4 linked regions of the Homo sapiens genome follow. The protein of the gene in region 4 purifies or fractionates together with the protein of the main gene of each other region. This does not show direct contact. Each region holds a gene or a part of one and is shown on either strand. Other genes may lie near its edges.

What was found. Proteins that work in one complex are often made in the same cells at the same time.
Region 1: the proteins of ACSL1 (region 4) and ZDHHC20 fractionate together in Homo sapiens (co-fractionation; one large-scale study listed by BioGRID). This does not show direct contact.
Region 2: the proteins of ACSL1 (region 4) and TPM4 fractionate together in Homo sapiens (co-fractionation; one large-scale study listed by BioGRID). This does not show direct contact.
Region 3: the proteins of ACSL1 (region 4) and BDH1 purify together in Homo sapiens (affinity purification with mass spectrometry, with the first as the bait; one large-scale study listed by BioGRID). This does not show direct contact.

The regions. Positions count from the first base shown.
Region 1 is NC_000013.11:21,449,304-21,453,610, forward strand, and holds part of ZDHHC20 (palmitoyltransferase ZDHHC20), read right to left. Parts: intron 1-4,307. UniProt on the Homo sapiens protein: Palmitoyltransferase that could catalyze the addition of palmitate onto various protein substrates.
Region 2 is NC_000019.10:16,099,688-16,103,502, forward strand, and holds the end of TPM4 (tropomyosin alpha-4 chain), read left to right. Parts: intron 1-1,576; coding exon 1,577-1,659; 3' UTR 1,660-3,315; downstream 3,316-3,815. UniProt on the Homo sapiens protein: Binds to actin filaments in muscle and non-muscle cells. Plays a central role, in association with the troponin complex, in the calcium dependent regulation of vertebrate striated muscle contraction.
Region 3 is NC_000003.12:197,531,969-197,536,275, reverse strand, and holds part of BDH1 (D-beta-hydroxybutyrate dehydrogenase, mitochondrial precursor), read left to right. Parts: exon of another isoform or gene 1-2,086; coding exon of another isoform or gene 2,087-2,181; intron 2,182-2,714; coding exon 2,715-2,787; intron 2,788-3,753; coding exon 3,754-3,864; intron 3,865-4,307.
Region 4 is NC_000004.12:184,762,858-184,767,972, forward strand, and holds part of ACSL1 (long-chain-fatty-acid--CoA ligase 1), read right to left. Parts: intron 3,900-5,115; coding exon 3,765-3,899; intron 3,130-3,764; coding exon 3,034-3,129; intron 2,069-3,033; coding exon 1,996-2,068; intron 399-1,995; coding exon 310-398; intron 1-309. UniProt on the Homo sapiens protein: Catalyzes the conversion of long-chain fatty acids to their active form acyl-CoAs for both synthesis of cellular lipids, and degradation via beta-oxidation. Preferentially uses palmitoleate, oleate and linoleate.

The sequences.
Region 1 (4,307 bases), on a different chromosome or scaffold from region 4:
ATGATCAGCTGGAATGTTTCTCTACTAATAGCAGTCATCAGGCAGCTCGAATGGGGTGGGAGTCTAAAATCGCCTTGTTCACACATTAGGGGTTCTGGCTTCTCTTGGCTGGGCCTCTTCTCCATGTGGTCTCTCACTCAGCAGTCTAGTCTGGACTCCTTACATGATGACGGGAATGTCCCAAAAGAGCTAAGGCAGAAGATGTCTTGAGGCCTAAGTTCCAGAACTCACATATCTACCACATTCTACTGGCCAAAGCAAGTACAAGGCCAGCCCAGATTCAATGGGCGGTAAACAGACTATTTCTTGATGGAAGAAGGTACAAATTATTATTATTATTATACTTTTTTTTTTTTTTGGAGACAGAGTCTCACTCTGTGGCCCAGGCTGGAGAGCAGTGACATGATCTCAGCTCACTGCAACCTCTGCCTCCAGGGTTCAAGCGATTCTCCTGCCTCAGCCTCCTGAGTACCTGGGATTACAGGTGTGTGCTAATTTTTGTATTTTTAGTAGAGATGGGGTTTTGCCACGTTGATGAAGCTGGTCTCGAACTCCTGACCTCAGGTGATCTGCCCACCTCGGCCTCCCAAAATGCTGGGATTACAGGCGTGAGCCACTGCACCCAGATGGTGCAAATTATTATAGTCATGTTTTTCAATCTATTACACTAAGCAGTGATCATGGTGGTTTAAAGGAGTGTAACAGTTGCAGTAGTAGTGGTGAGAAGCAGCTGGATTTTAGACATTTAATGACAGAACAAGCTGATTATCCAGATGGAGAATGACTTTTCAACCCAAGAAGTAGAAGGATACAGCTGTCATTTACTGAGCTATTAGGAGCAGCAGGTTCAAGGGAGAAAAAAAAAGAAAATCAAGAGTTTTGTCTACAATGCCTATTAGATCTCCAAGCAGAGATGTCAAGTAAACAGATTAGAGTCCGGAATTCAGCATACTACTACTTCTCTGCCGGAAAGGGAGCGGGCAGAGAAGCAGCCAGGCTTTTACTTGCATGACTAGGGCATAAGGTTCTTCTGAACAGTCTGACTTGGTTTCTAGGTTGTCCAGCATCTTTCTCTTCCACATTTCTTGTCTTTCAAGAAAGCAGGGAAGCCCCAGAGAAGGTTGAGTTTATGTGGGGAAATAAAACAGATCTTTTTTTTCATTTGATTTTAGGTGGGTTTTTAAATATATATATTTACAGAGCTCTCTCAGACCAGTATGCTATCTGGTAACACAGAAAATAATACCAGGACAGATTAACTCACTAGTAGTCATGAGAAAAAAAACTTTTTCTTCAAAAATAACAAAAAGTAAAAGAGAAGGCTAAGGTAACTGCAGAATTCAAATAAACAGGTCTTCTGGCCACTGTATCTTTCAAAGGCAAGTTATCTAGAAAATTACTACACTCTCGCATCTGAAAATAGATGCGAAATGATAAAATTAATAAAAAGGTGGTTTTTTTTTTTTTTGGAGACAGGGTCTCACTCTGTAACTCAGGCTGGAGTGCAGTGGTGTGATCATAGCTCACTGCAGCCTCGAAATCCTGGGCTCAAGTAATCCTCCTGCTTCAGCCTCCCAAGTAGCTGGGACTACAGGTGGGTACCACCATGCCTGGCTAATTTTTTATTTTATTTTTGTAAAGGGTATTGCTATGTTGCCCAAACTGCCCTTGAATTCCTGGCTTCAAGCAATCCTCCCACTTGGGCTTCCCAAAGTACTGAAATTATAGGCATGAATCACCATGCCTGGCCAAAAGTTTTTTGTTTTTAATTCTAATTCACATTTAACTTTTCCTATAAGTATGCCAACCACTGAGGATAAGATTTAGGGAAATAGGTTTTTTAAACCATGTCGGCATAATTTCAAAGAATCACTGTTTCATAACCCAAAACAAAGACTGTATGTAGGACCAATAAGCCATTTCACGTAGCCTTTACCACTAAAGATTGTGAAATACATGTTTTGTAACTATAATTAGTATTATTATTCTAGATGTTTGTGTGTCCTAACATTCAAACACGATTCAAGTGAGTTTACAAGAGTATGATTCAATTCAATTCAAGTTATATTAATTTAAAGTCTACTAGCACTAGGCTCTAATGGATACAAGAACAAACAGGACCCAATTATACTATAAGTCTTGTAAGCAGGATTATTCAGGTACATAAATAAATATAAGAAAGTGCATACTTTTAATTTATATTCTAATTCAATGTACAAATGATGTGAGGAGGCTTACTAGAAATATATTCCTAAATAAAACTGTGAATATGTTTTGAAAACAGAAAAATACAAATTAGGATGTGAAGTGAAGAGTAGGGGAGAAATACTGATACATAATACACAGATGAACCTCAAAAACATTATGCTATGCAAAATACACCTGACAAAAAAGACCACTTATTGGCCGGGCACGGTGGCTCAAACCTGAAACCCCAGCACTTTGGGAGGCTGAGGCAGGTGGATCACCTGAGGTCAGGAGTTCAAGACTAGCCTGGCCAACATGGTGAAACCCTGTCTCTACTAAAAATACAAAAAAAAATTAGCAGGGCATGGCGGCACACACCTGTAGTCCCAACTACTTGAGAGGCTGAGGCAGGAGAATCGTTTGAACTCAGGAGGCGGAGGTTGCAATGAGCCGAGATCACACTATTGCACTCCACCCTGGGCAACAAGAGTGAAGTTCCATCTCCAAAAAAAAAACAAAAAAACACTTATTGTATGATTCCATTTATTTTTTTCCCTTTTTAAATTTTTCTTGGTTTTTATGCTAATCTTCTCTGTACTCTTCCAATTTTAGTATATGTGTTGCAAGCATGTATTATTCCAGTTATATGGGATGTTCAGAAAAGGCATTTGGAGACAACATGGATTAGTGGTTGCCTTGGGCTGGGGGTGGGAAGAAGGATTAACTGTAAATGGGCATGAGGGATCTTAATGTGCGACAGAAATTTTCAAAAAACGGATTGTTGTGATGACTGCAAAACTTGGCAAATTTACTAAAAATAACTGCATTGTACATCTTAAATTAGTGAATTTTATGACATGCAAACTATGTCTCGATCAAGTTGTCTTTAAAAACTAAAGGCAAAATTAAAACTTTTACAAACATACAAAAACTGAAATGATTCAGTCCAGCTGACTTGCACTACAATAAACGTTAAAAGAGGCCCTTCAGGCAGAAGGAAATGACACTAGATGGATTTACAAAAAGGAATGAAGAGAACTAGAAATGGTAACTATAGGAATAAATACATATATTTTGGGTTTTTTAAACCTAAATCTTTAAAAACTATTAATATAATCAACTGTTTAAACATAGTAGCAATACAGTGTGAGGTTTACAACATATAAAATGCACCATAATAGCATAAAGGCCAAGATGGAAGAGATAGAAGTATACTTTTATAAGGTATTATATATGAAACAGTACGTAACTTGAAGGTAGACTGTGATAACTCAAAGACACATGTTATAAGCCCTAAAGCAATCAATAAAGTAACAAAAAGAATTACTAGTAATATGCCAATAAGGAGATAGAATCATTTTTAAAAATCAAAATTAAAAAAATTGTAAAGATCAATTAATTCAAAAGAAGGTCAAAGAAGGAGAAAATGGAACAAAGAAGAGGACAGACAATAAAACAAAAGAGCAAATGATAGACTTAAGCCTATATCAATAATCACATTAAATGTAGATGGTCAAAACCCCCTATTAAAAGGCAGAGATTTTCAGGTTGGATTTTAAAAGACCCAAATATATGCTCTTTACGAGAATTACAATTTAAATATAAGACACATACACATTAAAAGGACAGAGAAAGATACATCATGCTCACAATAATTAAAAGAAAGATTAGTGCCCATGTTAATATCTGCCAAAGCAGATTTCAGAGTAAACAATATCACCAGGGGTAATAAAGTCACTTCATAATGTTAAGTGAGCCAACTGGTCAATAGGATATTGCAATCCTAAATGTTTTATGCACCTAATTACACAGATGTAAAATACGAGGCAAAAACTGATAGAACTACAAGGAGAAATAAATCACAATTATAGTTATACCTCTCTTAATAACTGAGAGAACAAACAGGAAAGCAAGAAAATAGAGGACTTGAATAACACTACCAACTTGCCTTAACTGACATTTATGGAGCATTATGACATAACAGAATACTCCACCCAGCAACAAACAGCACAATACATTGCTGAGTACAGACATATTTTTCGTAAGCACACATGGAACACAGCTCAGACAGACCACATTCTGGGCTATAAAACAAGCCTGAATACATTTTAAAGGATTTA
Region 2 (3,815 bases), on a different chromosome or scaffold from region 4:
CCAGCATTTTAATGAGTCTTGGCCTTGTCCCTTATCAGCCATCACTTACTGCAAACTAAGTTCTCTCTCGTGCTCTGTCACGCATAGCTCTAAATGGCGTCTTTTTTCTCTCTCTCTTTCTTTTTTAATTTAAATTGTTTCATCAGCTCAGTTACTTAATAACATGCCTGTAGAATGGCTTAAATTTCGCATTTACCTGGGGTTTGTCTCCGTTCTCCTGGATTCATAGACAGTTACACAATTATGTGTATAATTTAAACAGCCATTCCCAGAAGCTCCGAAGGAAAGATGGGTTACAGGATTTTAGATTTAACTATCAAAGGCTCAGGGGCTAATTAACTAGCACTTGGGTGGAAATTTATATTAAGTCACACATATCTAGGACTGAAATCTTCATGTAGCAGCACGTCATAGGTTCTGAAGTATTTCTCCTTTATTCCTCATCATAACCCCCACACCACGCATTGATATCGTTACCCCCATTTGACAGACGGGGAAAACAGACCTAGGAAGGTTAGATGCTTACTTAAGTGATACAACTGGAGCTTAAGTTCAGGTATTCTGACTCAAGGGTTACCAGAGTTCACAAGGAAAAATACAGGACACCAACTTAAATCTGAGTTTCAGATAAGCAATGAATAATTTTTTAATCATAAGTATATCTCTTGCATAAGTACATCTCATGCAACATTTGGGATATACTTACACTAAAATATTATTTGTGGTTTATCTGAAATTCAATTTAACTGGGCGCCCTGCATTTTATCTTACAACTGTGACTCCCAAATTTGGTGCTTGTTCCTTAGTATTCTGTGATGTTCTGCTGTAATTAAAAATACAAAGTACTGGACAGGCATGGTGGCTATAACCCACCTGTATTCCCAGCACTTTGGGAGGCTGAGCAGATGGGTTCCTTGAGCCCAGGAGCTCAAGACCAGCCTGGGTAACATGGTGAGACCCTGTCTCTAGAAAAAATGCAAAAATTGGCCAGGTGGTGGCATGCACCTGCAGTCCCAGCTATGCGGGAGGCTGAGGTGGGAGGATCACCTGAGCCCAGGGAGGTCAAGGCTACGGTGATTCGTGATTACGCCACTGCACTTCAGCCTGGACAACAGAGTGAGACCCTGTCTCAAAAAAAAAGTACTTTCTCTCTTGTGACTTTCACCCTGGCAGTTTCAGGTTTAGAAATCTTTGGGGGGGTGCTGGGCATGGTGGCTCACACCTGTAATCCCAGCACTTTAGGAGGCCAAGGTGGGTGGATCACTTGAGGTCAAGAGCTCGAGACCAGCCTGGCTAACATGGTGAAACCCCATCTCTACTAAAAATACAAAAATTAGCCGGGTGGTGGTGGCACGCGTCTGTAATCCCAGCTACTCGGGAGGCTGAGGCAGGAGAATTGCTTGAGCCTGGCAGGTGAAGGTTGCAGTGAGCCAAGATCGCGCCACTGCACTCCAGCCTGGGTGACAGAATGAGACCCTGTCTCAAGAAGAAGAAAAAAAAACAAATCTTTTTTTTTCTTTCATTTAACAAAGACGCTTATTAATTTATCTTTCCCCATACTCTTAATCCTCACCAGAGAAACTTGCCCAGGCCAAAGAAGAGAACGTGGGCTTACATCAGACACTGGATCAGACACTAAACGAACTTAACTGTATATAAGCAAAACAGAAGAGTCTTGTTCCAACAGAAACTCTGGAGCTCCGTGGGTCTTTCTCTTCTCTTGTAAGAAGTTCCTTTTGTTATTGCCATCTTCGCTTTGCTGGAAATGTCAAGCAAATTATGAATACATGACCAAATATTTTGTATCGGAGAAGCTTTGAGCACCAGTTAAATCTCATTCCTTCCCTTTTTTTTTCAAATGGCACCAGCTTTTTCAGCTCTCTTATTTTTTCCTTAAGTAGCATTTATTCCTAAGGTAGGCAGGGTATTTCCTAGTAAGCATACTTTCTTAAGACGGAGGCCATTTGGTTCCTGGGAGAATAGGCAGCCCCACACTTTGAAGAATACAGACCCCAGTATCTAGTCGTGGATATAATTAAAACGCTGAAGACCATAACCTTTTGGGTCAACTGTTGGTCAAACTATAGGAGAGACCAGGGACCATCACATGGGTAGGGATTTTCCATCCAGAGCCAATAAAAGGACTGGTGGGGGCCGGGGGTGGCTATTGTGGGAAGTCATAACCCACAGATAGATCAACCTAAGAATCCTGGCCCTTCTCCACTCTCCACCATGCAGGACAAACATCTTCTCAAGCAGTCAACGTAGAATGCTTGGGAAATAGTCATAATTACCCACATATAGTAATTAATAGATGGTAATTAATTGATCCTTGATGTGATGTTCTTTTGCATATTTCCTTCATTCTAAAGTTGTTCCCTGGCCGGGAGCGTTGGCTTTCGCCTGTAATCCCAACACTTTGGGAGGCCAGGACAGATCACTTGAGGTCAGGAGTTCGAGACCAGCCCAGCCAACATGGCGAAACCATGTCTCTACTAAAAATACAAAAATTATGGTGACGCCTGCCTGTAGTCCCAGCTACTCGGGAGGCTGAGGCAGGAGGATCGCTTGAACCCAGGAAGTGGAGACTGCAGTGAGCCGATATCGCACCACAGCGCTCCAGCCTGGTCGACAGAGTGAGACTCCATCTCAAGAAAAAATAAAAATAAAGTTGTTCTCTGAAGAGCAAATGTCTCATTCCAGTAATGACCCACTCAGCAGGAATATGGTGGAGTTCAGTCCAATTCAGGTCAGCCATATCCAAAAGACCACAAGTCATTACTAAGTTGAGCAAAAGAGTTTTTATCTATTAGCAGAAAGGGCCTCTCTGGCAGCAGAGATTAAAAACTGGCCCAACTTCATTTCCATACTTCAGGGAACAGCAAATTGAGGATTTACTTATCTAGGACTTGAATTCCTTCTTTGGGACCAAGTTAATAAAAGACCAAGAAACTCCTGATTAAACTGGATAATGAAGGATTCTGTAGACAGGGCTGCACGTATCGGCTTTGTTTGACTTCTCTTTTCTCAGTTAACATCTCAGAGCTAGAACATTCCACATTCCCCAGCAGCGTGTGGGGGCTGACTAAAGTTTACAATTCCAACTAAAAATCACCCTGCTTCTGGCTTATCTGAATCCCTTACCCACCCCACCCCACCACCCTACTCCTATTTATTCAGCACCACACTACCCAGGAAATACACTAGCAAATTGTGCAATGGAATAAAATCCACACTTTAGATTCTTGCAACTGTATCATATGTAATAGTATCACTTTTTCTACATTTTGGTCAAATAAATTTTTACATAAACTACAATTTGCGTGAATTTTAGAATGTGTGGGGGTACACAGAGCATTTTGGTTCAACAAATGTTAAAGGGATGGAAAGGGAAAATAACCAGAGCCAAGAATGTAGACAAGGTTATCTATTTGCTTTATACTGTGACTTCATGATACAAGGATATTACAGTCTCATTGCAGGCGAGAGCACTCAGCCTCGGTCACTCGAAAACTCCTGGCCTTCCTTATCCCCTACGCTGCCTAAGCCAGGCTGTGAAGAATGAGTAGGATTTTAAGAGATAAAAGCAGGGAAAATCATCTCTGTTGCCTGAGTTAGGAAGATCTGCCTAGCTAAGGCTGAGTTACACATACAAAGGAAAGCAGACCAGCATGGGCACCATAGTGAGACCCCGTCTACAAACAATAACAAAAATTTGGCCAGGTACAGTGGCCAAATTACACCTGTAATCCCAGCACTTTGGGAGGCCGAGGCTGGCGGACCGCTTAGGGCCAGGAGTTCAGGACCAGCCTGGC
Region 3 (4,307 bases), on a different chromosome or scaffold from region 4:
TATCAATGAATCAAAATAGAAAATCCAGAAATAGGCCCACCCAAATATGCCCAACCAATTTTTGACAAAAGTGCAAAAGCAATTCAATAGAGGAAAGATAACGTTTTCAAAAAATGGCGCTGGAGCAAATGGACACAAAACTTAGACCTAAGTCTGACGTCTTATACAAAAATTAATGGATCATAGACTTAAGAAGTAAAACATAAAACTATAAAACTTTTTTTTTTTTTGAGACAGGGTCTCCCTCAGTCCCCCAGGCTGGAGTGCAGTGGTGCAATCTCAGCTCATTGCAACCTCTGCCTCCTGGGCTCAGTTGATCTTCCTGCCTCAGCCTTCCAAGTAGCTGGGACTTAAAGGCGTGAGCCACCACACCTGACTAATTTTCGTATTTTTTGTAGAGATGGGGTTTCGCCATGTTGCCCGGGCTGTTCTCGAACTCCTGAGCTCAAGCAATCTGCCCACCTCAGCCTCCCAAAGCGCTGGGATTACAGGCATGAGCCACCATCCCAGCCAAAACTATAAAACTTTTAGAAAAGAACATAGAAGAAAATCTTTGGGTCCTGGGGGCAAAGAGCTCTGAGACTTGACATCAAAAGCATGCCGCATAATAGGAAAATACTAGACTTTATTTAGGGGTTAAGAGTTTAGACTCTGGACTCTCTCAGCCTTGGTTTCACTAGTTAGCTCTATCACTAACTACATTGGGCATTGAAAATTCCTCTGTTGTCCCACGTGGTGCATGGATGATTGTAGACGAGGACACTGAGATCCTGAAGGCAGAAGTAATTTCTCTAAGCAACGTTGTTGGTTGGTGGCAGAGTCTGGGTTACAACCCCTGGTTTCCTGATTCCGAGTCCAAGTGAAATACTTTTGCCCCTGCAGTAGACCCTGCTACAGAGGATAAAAAGGCACGTCATAGGCTAGGAGAAAAATTTTGCCTACCACATATGTAACCAAGGACTAGCAGCTAGGACATCTGAAGAATTCTCAACATTCAACGGGGTAGAAGAATGAACGATTCAATAGAATATGGGCAAAAGACATGAAGAGGCATTTTACCAAACATAGGGTGCTATGGTCCGAATGTTTGCATTCTCCTCAAATTCCTGTGTTGAAATCCTAACCCCCAAGGTATTGGTATTAGGAGGCAGGGGCCCTGGGAAGTGATTAGGTCATAAAGGTGGAGTCCTCATGGATGGGATTAGTGTCTTTATAAAAGAGACCTTTGCCATGTGAGGTTACAGTGAGAAGACATCTGTCTATGAAGAAAGTGGGCCCTCACCAAACACAGTCTGCTGGCACTTTGCACTTCAACTCCCCAGCTTCCAGAACTGTAAGGAATATAAGTCTGTTGTTGGTAAGCCACCCGGTCTATGATATTTTGTTATAGCAGCCCAAACAGACTAAGACAGGTGACAAATAAACATGAAAAGATGTTCAACATCATTAGCCATTAGGGAAATGCAGATTAAAACCACAGCGAAATATCATGATACAGTTTTCAGCATGGCTAAACTAGAAAATAGTGACACCACCAAATGCCGACAAGGCTGTGGGGAAACTGGGTTGTTCAGACACTGCCACTGGGGCTGTAGCGTACTATAGCCACTTTCATAAACAGTTTGTCAGTTTCTTAAAAAACTAAACCTGCAACTACCATATGACCCAGCAATTACACCCCTGGGCACCTACCCAAGAGAAATGAAAACTCAACGTTTGCGCAAAAACCTGTGTAGGAATGTTCAAGCAGCTTTATTCATAATATGCCCAAACAGGAAACAACTCAGCTGTCCTTCAGTAGGTAAATAGTTAAGCAAATTGTCATACCCCTGTGTCATGGAGCACTACCTAGCAATAACAAGGAGCAAATTATTGATACATAACAATCTGGATGAATCTCCAGAGAATTATGTTGAATGAAAAAAGCCAGCCCCTGAAGGATACATACTGTATGATGCCATTTACATAACATTCTTGAAATTCTAAAATTACAGAGATGGGGAACAGATTTGTGGTTAAAGATGGAGCCGGGTGGGAAGAAAGTAGGTGTGGCTATAAACGGGTAACATGAAGGATCCTTGTGGTGATGGAAATTTCTGTATTTTTATTGTATCCGTGTCAGTATCCTGGTTGTGATATGGTAATACAGTTTTGCAAGATACTACCCTTAGGGGAAATGAGGTAAGACCTGGCATCTCTCTGTATTATTTCTTAATTGCATGTGAATCTACAATTATTTCAAAATAAAAAGTATGATTGAAGTAACTCTCAGGAAGCTTAGCCTACTGTGGATTAAGACATCAAAATTGCAGCAGGCTTTAACAAAGCTATACTACTACAAGGATAGTTCACACTTGAATTAGCTTGAAACATTACCTATCCATGTCATCTTGGAAAGCAGAAAATGGAACTTTATTGGAGTGGGACACTGGATGGCCAGGGTTTAGCAGAGCCTGCCCAACAAAAGTAGCTTCAGAATTGGCTTTATTCTCAGGAAGGCTCTTCCTGGACAGTGGCAAACATAGCCATAGCAAATACTGGCTCACTTTCTATCAGCCAGCAACCCTGGTGGAAAGAGGGCCTCTTACTCAGTTGTACCAGCAAGCTGTCTCCAGGAGCCGGGGCTGGAGAGACACCCAGTGCTGCTCTAGGCCAGTGTGGCTGAGGGTCTGTCTAGTCTGTCCTTGTACTCACGGCTTCCTTTTCTCTTGCAGACGCCCACTATTGCTTGGTTCTACTTCCTTTATCCCGATTGGCCGTCGGACTTATGCCAGTGCGGCGGAGCCGGTGAGTGGAAGCCCAGCTACCCGGGAGCCAGTTGGATGGTCAGAACCCTTTCTTCTGGGCCCCTAGGCCCTGAGCTACCCTCAGAGTGGGGCCTTAGTGTTTCCAGGACACTGGGAGCCACTTTCTCACTTAACCCTCCCCCAAAGCCCCTCATCAGTAATGAGCTCACACACCCCCATCCATGTGGGGAGGAAGCAGTAATGAGGCACTCCAGCCCCTCCCAGCCAGGAAGGTATCACTGGAGGCCTAGGTGGGGGGCGAGAACTCCCAGCCCCACCCAGCAAGTTAGGGGTTAAGAGTTTAGACTCCGGAGGCCCAGGGCGGTGGCTCCCGCCTGTAATCCCAGCACTTTGGGAGGCCGAGGTGGGTGGATCAACTAAGGTAGGGAGTTCAAGACCAGCCTGGCCAACATGGAGAAACCCCATCTCTACTAAAAATACAAAATTAGCCGGGCGTGGAGGTGCATGCCTGTAATCCCAGCTACTTGGGAGGCTGAGGCAGGAGAACTGCTTGAACCTGGAAGGTGAAGGTTTTGCGGTGAGCCGAGACTGGCCATTGCCCTCCAGCCTGGGCAACAAGAGCCAAACTCCATCTCAAAAAAAAGAAGAAGAGTTTAGACTCTGGAATCTCTCAGCCCTGGTTTCAGTTCCAGCTCTATCACTAGCTACATTGAGCGTTTTAAAAAGACCTCTGTTTCTCACATGTAGCATGGGGGATTGTAGATGAGATCCTGAAGGCAGAAGTAATTTTCCCAAGCAACATTGCTGGTTGGTAGCCGAGTCTGGGTTAGAACCTGGCCTTTCCACTATACCATGGTGCTTCTCCAGACAACAAGAACAAGGTAGGGAGGGCCAGGCTTGGGCCACTCAGGAAGCACTAACTCTCACTGCACAGAGGGTGGAGAGGCCTGGTCACTTTGCCCCTGTACCACCGGTTCCTAACATGGAATCTGACCTTGTAAAACAGGTTGGCAGCAAAGCTGTCCTGGTCACAGGCTGTGACTCTGGATTTGGGTTCTCATTGGCCAAGCATCTGCATTCAAAAGGCTTCCTTGTGTTTGCTGGCTGCTTGATGAAGGTAAGAGACGAGTTATCTTCTTCACCATTGTCTTTTACACATAGTCATTGTTTTTTAGTCTTTTAAAAAGTGCTTTCCTAACAACTGGCTCACCTTTGCTTAAACCAGCCTGTCCATTTTCCATCGGCTTCAGTCCCACTTGTTCTTCATAGCTTTGTCCATCCATCATCCATGCATCCATCCATCCATCCATCCTCTCATCTATCCATCATTCGTCAAATGCTATGATGTACCTGACACTTTGCTAGGTGCAGTAGAAGAATGAGACCTTGTCCCTGCCCTGAAGTTGCTCCCTGTCGAGTGGTGAGGAGACAGCCATGCATAGACACAGCTGAAGAATTCGAGTGAAGCAGATTCTCAGGGGTGTGCGAGAATGTTCGGCGAGACTGTGTAGGAGGAAGGGATTGATGATGGCATGCCAGAGGAAGTGACATTTGTTCTGG
Region 4 (5,115 bases):
ACCCAGGGCAATCAACAGGCAGGACCTTCGTCCCAGGAACTGAGGCCACCGGGCCTTTCTTTGCAGGCTCTCCAGCCCAAATCCCTATGAGGCCTGGCAGAGGAAGACAGGCATCAGTGTCCCTCCTGCCCACTCCCCGAGAGCTGAACATAAATGTACCCTCAGAAAGAAGCCTGGCAGACTCCAGGATCACCAATGAAGTCAAGTTCAATGGCTTTATTGAGCTGTTGGGAAATACCACAGCATTCGCAAAGGCCAGCGATCACAGGAAATGGCAGCGAGGGAAAATGACTGACGGTTTTCACTCACCTCGCCCTCGCCCTCGGCAGCCATGTAATTCATTTCTTCCACATCAACAAGTTTTATCAAATTGCACGGCATCGGGGCCCCAACATGGCCTGTATATTAAATAAGCAAATGGTCATTCCTAAGGGAACTACTCATAACCTCAGGTCAAATTATTTTGATAGCAAACAGGATTCCACATAAGAAAAACGGCTGGGATAAACTTCTGATTTCTGCAATTACAGCCATTCTCTTCCTAGTATAATTTAAGAGAGTCTATTCTTAGACTAGGGAAGAACATATTTAGTGTCTTCAGGACCTTTTCCAAGTGTGATGCTCTGAGTTATTTATGAGTAATTTGGCCTCTATGTGAAGGTTCCTACAAACACCTGGAAGCAGCCTCTCTCAAACCTTCACTCGGCTTCCACCCTCCGATCGCCCCCACCCATTACTTGCACTCATCTTACACAGAATTCTTAGCATCCTGTTCTCTGTAAGAAGAGAGAACATATGCAGCTTTGGCAAACCTCACGCACCACCTGGTTCTGATCAACACGGCCTTTATTTCCTTGCGTATGAAGAAGCATGTCTTACAGTTTTTACTAAGACGGGACAGTGCTTATTTCTACAGCTAACTTAACTCTCTTGCCAAAGGCTGTTAAGACTGGGCTGTCTTTTCCAAAAGCAGCAACAACAGACATTAGATATGTTAGATATCACATTAGATATCACAAATAATTCTTCCTATGTTTTAATAATTTGAGCTTCTAGAGATCAGTATTCCAAATTCTCTGTTAAGGAAACTGAGGTTAAAAATTAAACAAATACCATAAAGAAGATTCACAGACTGTCTGCGTTAATTCCAGGACAATGATGTTAGTGGACAGTGCTAGGTTCTAGAATATATGTTACTAAATGGTGCTAATACTTATAATACTCCAAATAAGCTGGGAAGTTTATTTATCACAGTGTAGAATTTACTACTCAGGTGACACAGAGGAAGCACAGAAGCTCTGCAGTCAGGCCGGGGTTGAAATCCTGGCTCCAAAGCATAATGCCGCGTAAATTCTCATACATCATTTATGTGTTACTTAAGCAACAATCTATAATTTCCTCTGAGAAGTACCAGAACTTATCTCACAGGGACACTGTTGGGGTTACACTGACATTAGGTACATCCTAAGCACCCATCACAGAGGCTTACCCATGACAGATGCTCAATTATTTTTGTTTGTCCTCCTCCTTTTTCCTTTTGAGAAATGACTTTTTGAGAAAAAGGACTTGTATTTATTCCTATTGGTAGTCCCAACACCTAGCACAGCACACAGTACAAATTCAATAACTATTTGTTGTTTAAAATGACCAGCAAATAACGAGACCCTACTCAATTACTAGGAAGCTCTGTTGGGCCAGACACTCTCAATCTGGAACACAGGGCCCCTCTCAGATGTCACTAGTAGAGTCTAGGCAAGTCTCTGCTGCCACCAGCTTTACAGTCAGATCCCCAGCGCCACCCCTCAGTTGCAGGAGGTGTTCTCCCCACAGTGCCCTGACTTACAAGAGTGTTTGCCCCCAGAGCCTAATGATCAGAAACATAGCACTTTTGTTTAAGATGGTTAATGAACCAGTCAGTGATTAACCCAATTCCAGACATACCAATAACCCAGTATGAATAACAAAATTCCAAAAAGGAGCCTCCTACAGCCATACCTGCGGTCCAGTCTCCAGGCATGGTCAGGCAGCACCCGGCAGTGCACTCTGTCTGTCCGTATCCTTCATAAAACTGGGGCACCAAGAGATGCAACATTATTAAGGAGAGCACAATCACACCTTTACTGGAAGTGCACAAGCAATGAAGTCTCACTAACTCCCAAGTCATGGCTGACTGGTGAAATCTCATTTCAAATGGTCTGTTCAGTAAGTTCATTCAATGGTCCAGTGTGCTTTACGCCAACACCAGCCGTCACCCAGGTACACCTTCTATTTAACTTCCAGTGGCCAAGCGAGGGAGAACCCCTATGTGACTGGTCACCACCCAGCAGCAGTGAACTCCCTTGGCCAATTCACAGGACATGTACCCCACACATGCCCCGTCTGCCACCAAATCCTCCTTTCTCCCTTTACTACAGGTTGTCAGCATGGTGTGCGGGTAGGCTCATCACCTGTGACCCATTCCACAGCTGCATACCTGCTTCTAAAGGTTGTCTTGCACCTGATCCTAGAGAAAATTCAACAAATGGCAGACACACACATTCCCCTGCCTAGGGTAAAAAATATACATATGGTTGCTTCTCCAAGCAACCTAATAATAACATATCTTCCAAACAAACATAACACACACACACAAAGTAGGGGGTGGGAAGGATAGGGGTGATGTTGGTGAAAGGACACAAAGTCTCCATCAGGAGGAACTGGTTCAAGAGCTCCATAGCACCACGTGGTGACTAGAGCTAACAACAATGTATCATATACTTGAAAACTGCCCAGAGGGTAGATTCCAAGTGTTCTCACCACGTGGGAAAAAAAAGTATGGGTGGTAAGACACATGTTAATTAGCTTCATTTAGCCATTCCACAATGTTTACATATTACATACATCAAAACATCATGTTGTTACGCCATAAATATAGATACGCTTGTCAATTAAGAAAGAACACACACACACACACACAGTACAGATGACTTTTGGTGCAGAAGAGGACTGGGCATCCTAGTGTGGGAGAATCAGGCGCCGTGACATCCACCTCACCTGACAGCCCAGGGCTGCTCTGAGGAACGTCAGCACAGTGGCAGACACCGGGGCGGCTCCTGTCACCATCAGCCGGACTCTTCCGCCCAGGCTCGACTTTCAGGGAGGGAGAGTGGGAGAAGGTGAGGGTTACACACCTGGAAGTCGGCGGCCTCTCCGCCAAGGGGGCCTGCTTGGGACCCCGTTCCCTAACCCATAGCTGCAGACCACACGGAGGCCACACGGAGAACTCACAGCCCTCATGATGGCAGCACAGGGCTACGGTTTGTTTCCACCCGTGACTGCCCTGTTCCCTCCCAATGGGGATGGAAGTCAGCCCCACCTCTGCAGAAGCTATTTCAGGGAATTAGAACACAACTGGGCAGATCTGTGGCAACTACCACAATTCTGGCCTTCTGGGGGGCATGATATTGTTACACGTTATCACTCATGCTTGAAAAATTACCTCAAGAGTGACACGCTTGTTCCGGAAAAACGCAACAAAATGGAGAATGAGAAAGGCTCCACTACCCTGACTCCTTTTCCCCCTAGATGGCTGCAATACTATTGATCTTAGAAACTGAGGCCTCCTTAATGGCTTTGCCTTAGTTTTTAAATGTGTGCCAGAATTAACAAAAACATGTTATTCTCTCCCTTACCTTCATCTCTCCCTCTCACAAAAAAGGCCCTCCCAGAACTCTGAAAAGCGAAGTCGGTTTCCATGGGAGCAGTGGCTGTGAGTCACGTGTTACCTGTACTTTGTGGAAGATCAGCCGGTCCCACAGGCTGTTGTTTCTGATGATGCCGCTGCGAAGCTCTGCTTCTTTCCTCTTGGAGGCAAAGTCCAAGAGCCATCGCTTCAGCGTGGTGTTTGCTTGTCCGAAAATCTAATGAGGCAAGACATGAGAAAGTTTTCACACCTACTAGGATGGCCAGAGTCAAAGAGTGTGGAGAAATCAGAACCCTCACACACAGCTGGGGAACACAAAATGGCACAGCTGCTCTGACAGCCTGGCCGGTCCTCTAACGGCCCCACATGGTCAGCACAGGACAGCAATTCCACACCTCGGTATACACCCAGGAGCAATGGACACATACATCCCCAAATGCCCATCGAGTAGGAATGTGTAGGCCAGGTGCGGTGGCCCACGCTTGTATTCCCAGCACTTTGGGAGGCTGAGGTGGGCAGATCTCCTGAGCTCAGGAGTTTGAGTCCAGTGTGGCCAACATGGTAAGACCCCATCTCTACAAAAAATACAGAAATTAGCCGGGCATGGTGGCACATGCCTGCGGTCCCAGCTACTCAGGAGGCTAAGGTGGGAGGACTGCTTGAGCCCTGGAGGTGGAGGCTGCAGTGAGCCATGATAACACCACTGCACTCTAGCCTGGATGACAGAGAGAGAGACCCTGTCTCAAAAAAAAAAAAAAAAAAGGAATGGATAAATAAAATGCGTTATACCCATACAGTGGAATACTATTTGGCCGTTAAAAGGAATGAAGTGCTAATACGTGCTACATGGATGCTTGTGAAAGACGCCAGTCACAAAGGAGCACATATGGCATGATTCCATCCACAGAAAAGTCCAGAATAGAGAAATACACAGATGAGCGGATGCTGAAGGGTGGAGGGGGTCGGGGAGCTGATAAAGAATAGGTAAGGGTTTCTCTTGGAGGTCATGAAAATGTTCTAAAATTGATTGTAGTGATGGCTGGAGAACTGTGAAAGTACTCAAAACCTTTGAATTACACACTTTAAATCAGCAAATTATACAGAGTATTATATGTTGATAAAGTTGTCCTTTTAAAAAGAACCATTAAAAACATAAGAACGTTCTGAGAGATAACAAAAGTCCTGCCTCAAAATAAAGAGTAAGTGAACACTCTTTCTGGAGATTGCTCATGCCCCTCGCGCCTGGCCCTGGCTGTGCGGTCCACGCAATGATACCCACCGCAGAGGGGCTGGTGTTCTCTTGGGCTCTGCTGTGGCTTAGTCACTTCTTTCAGTGTGGCCAATTAAGTAATGTTTTACATGTCCATGCAAGGAGCTTTACAATGAAGAAAACCATTTCATAGTTACTATTCTTACGTGATCCCATTAGCAAC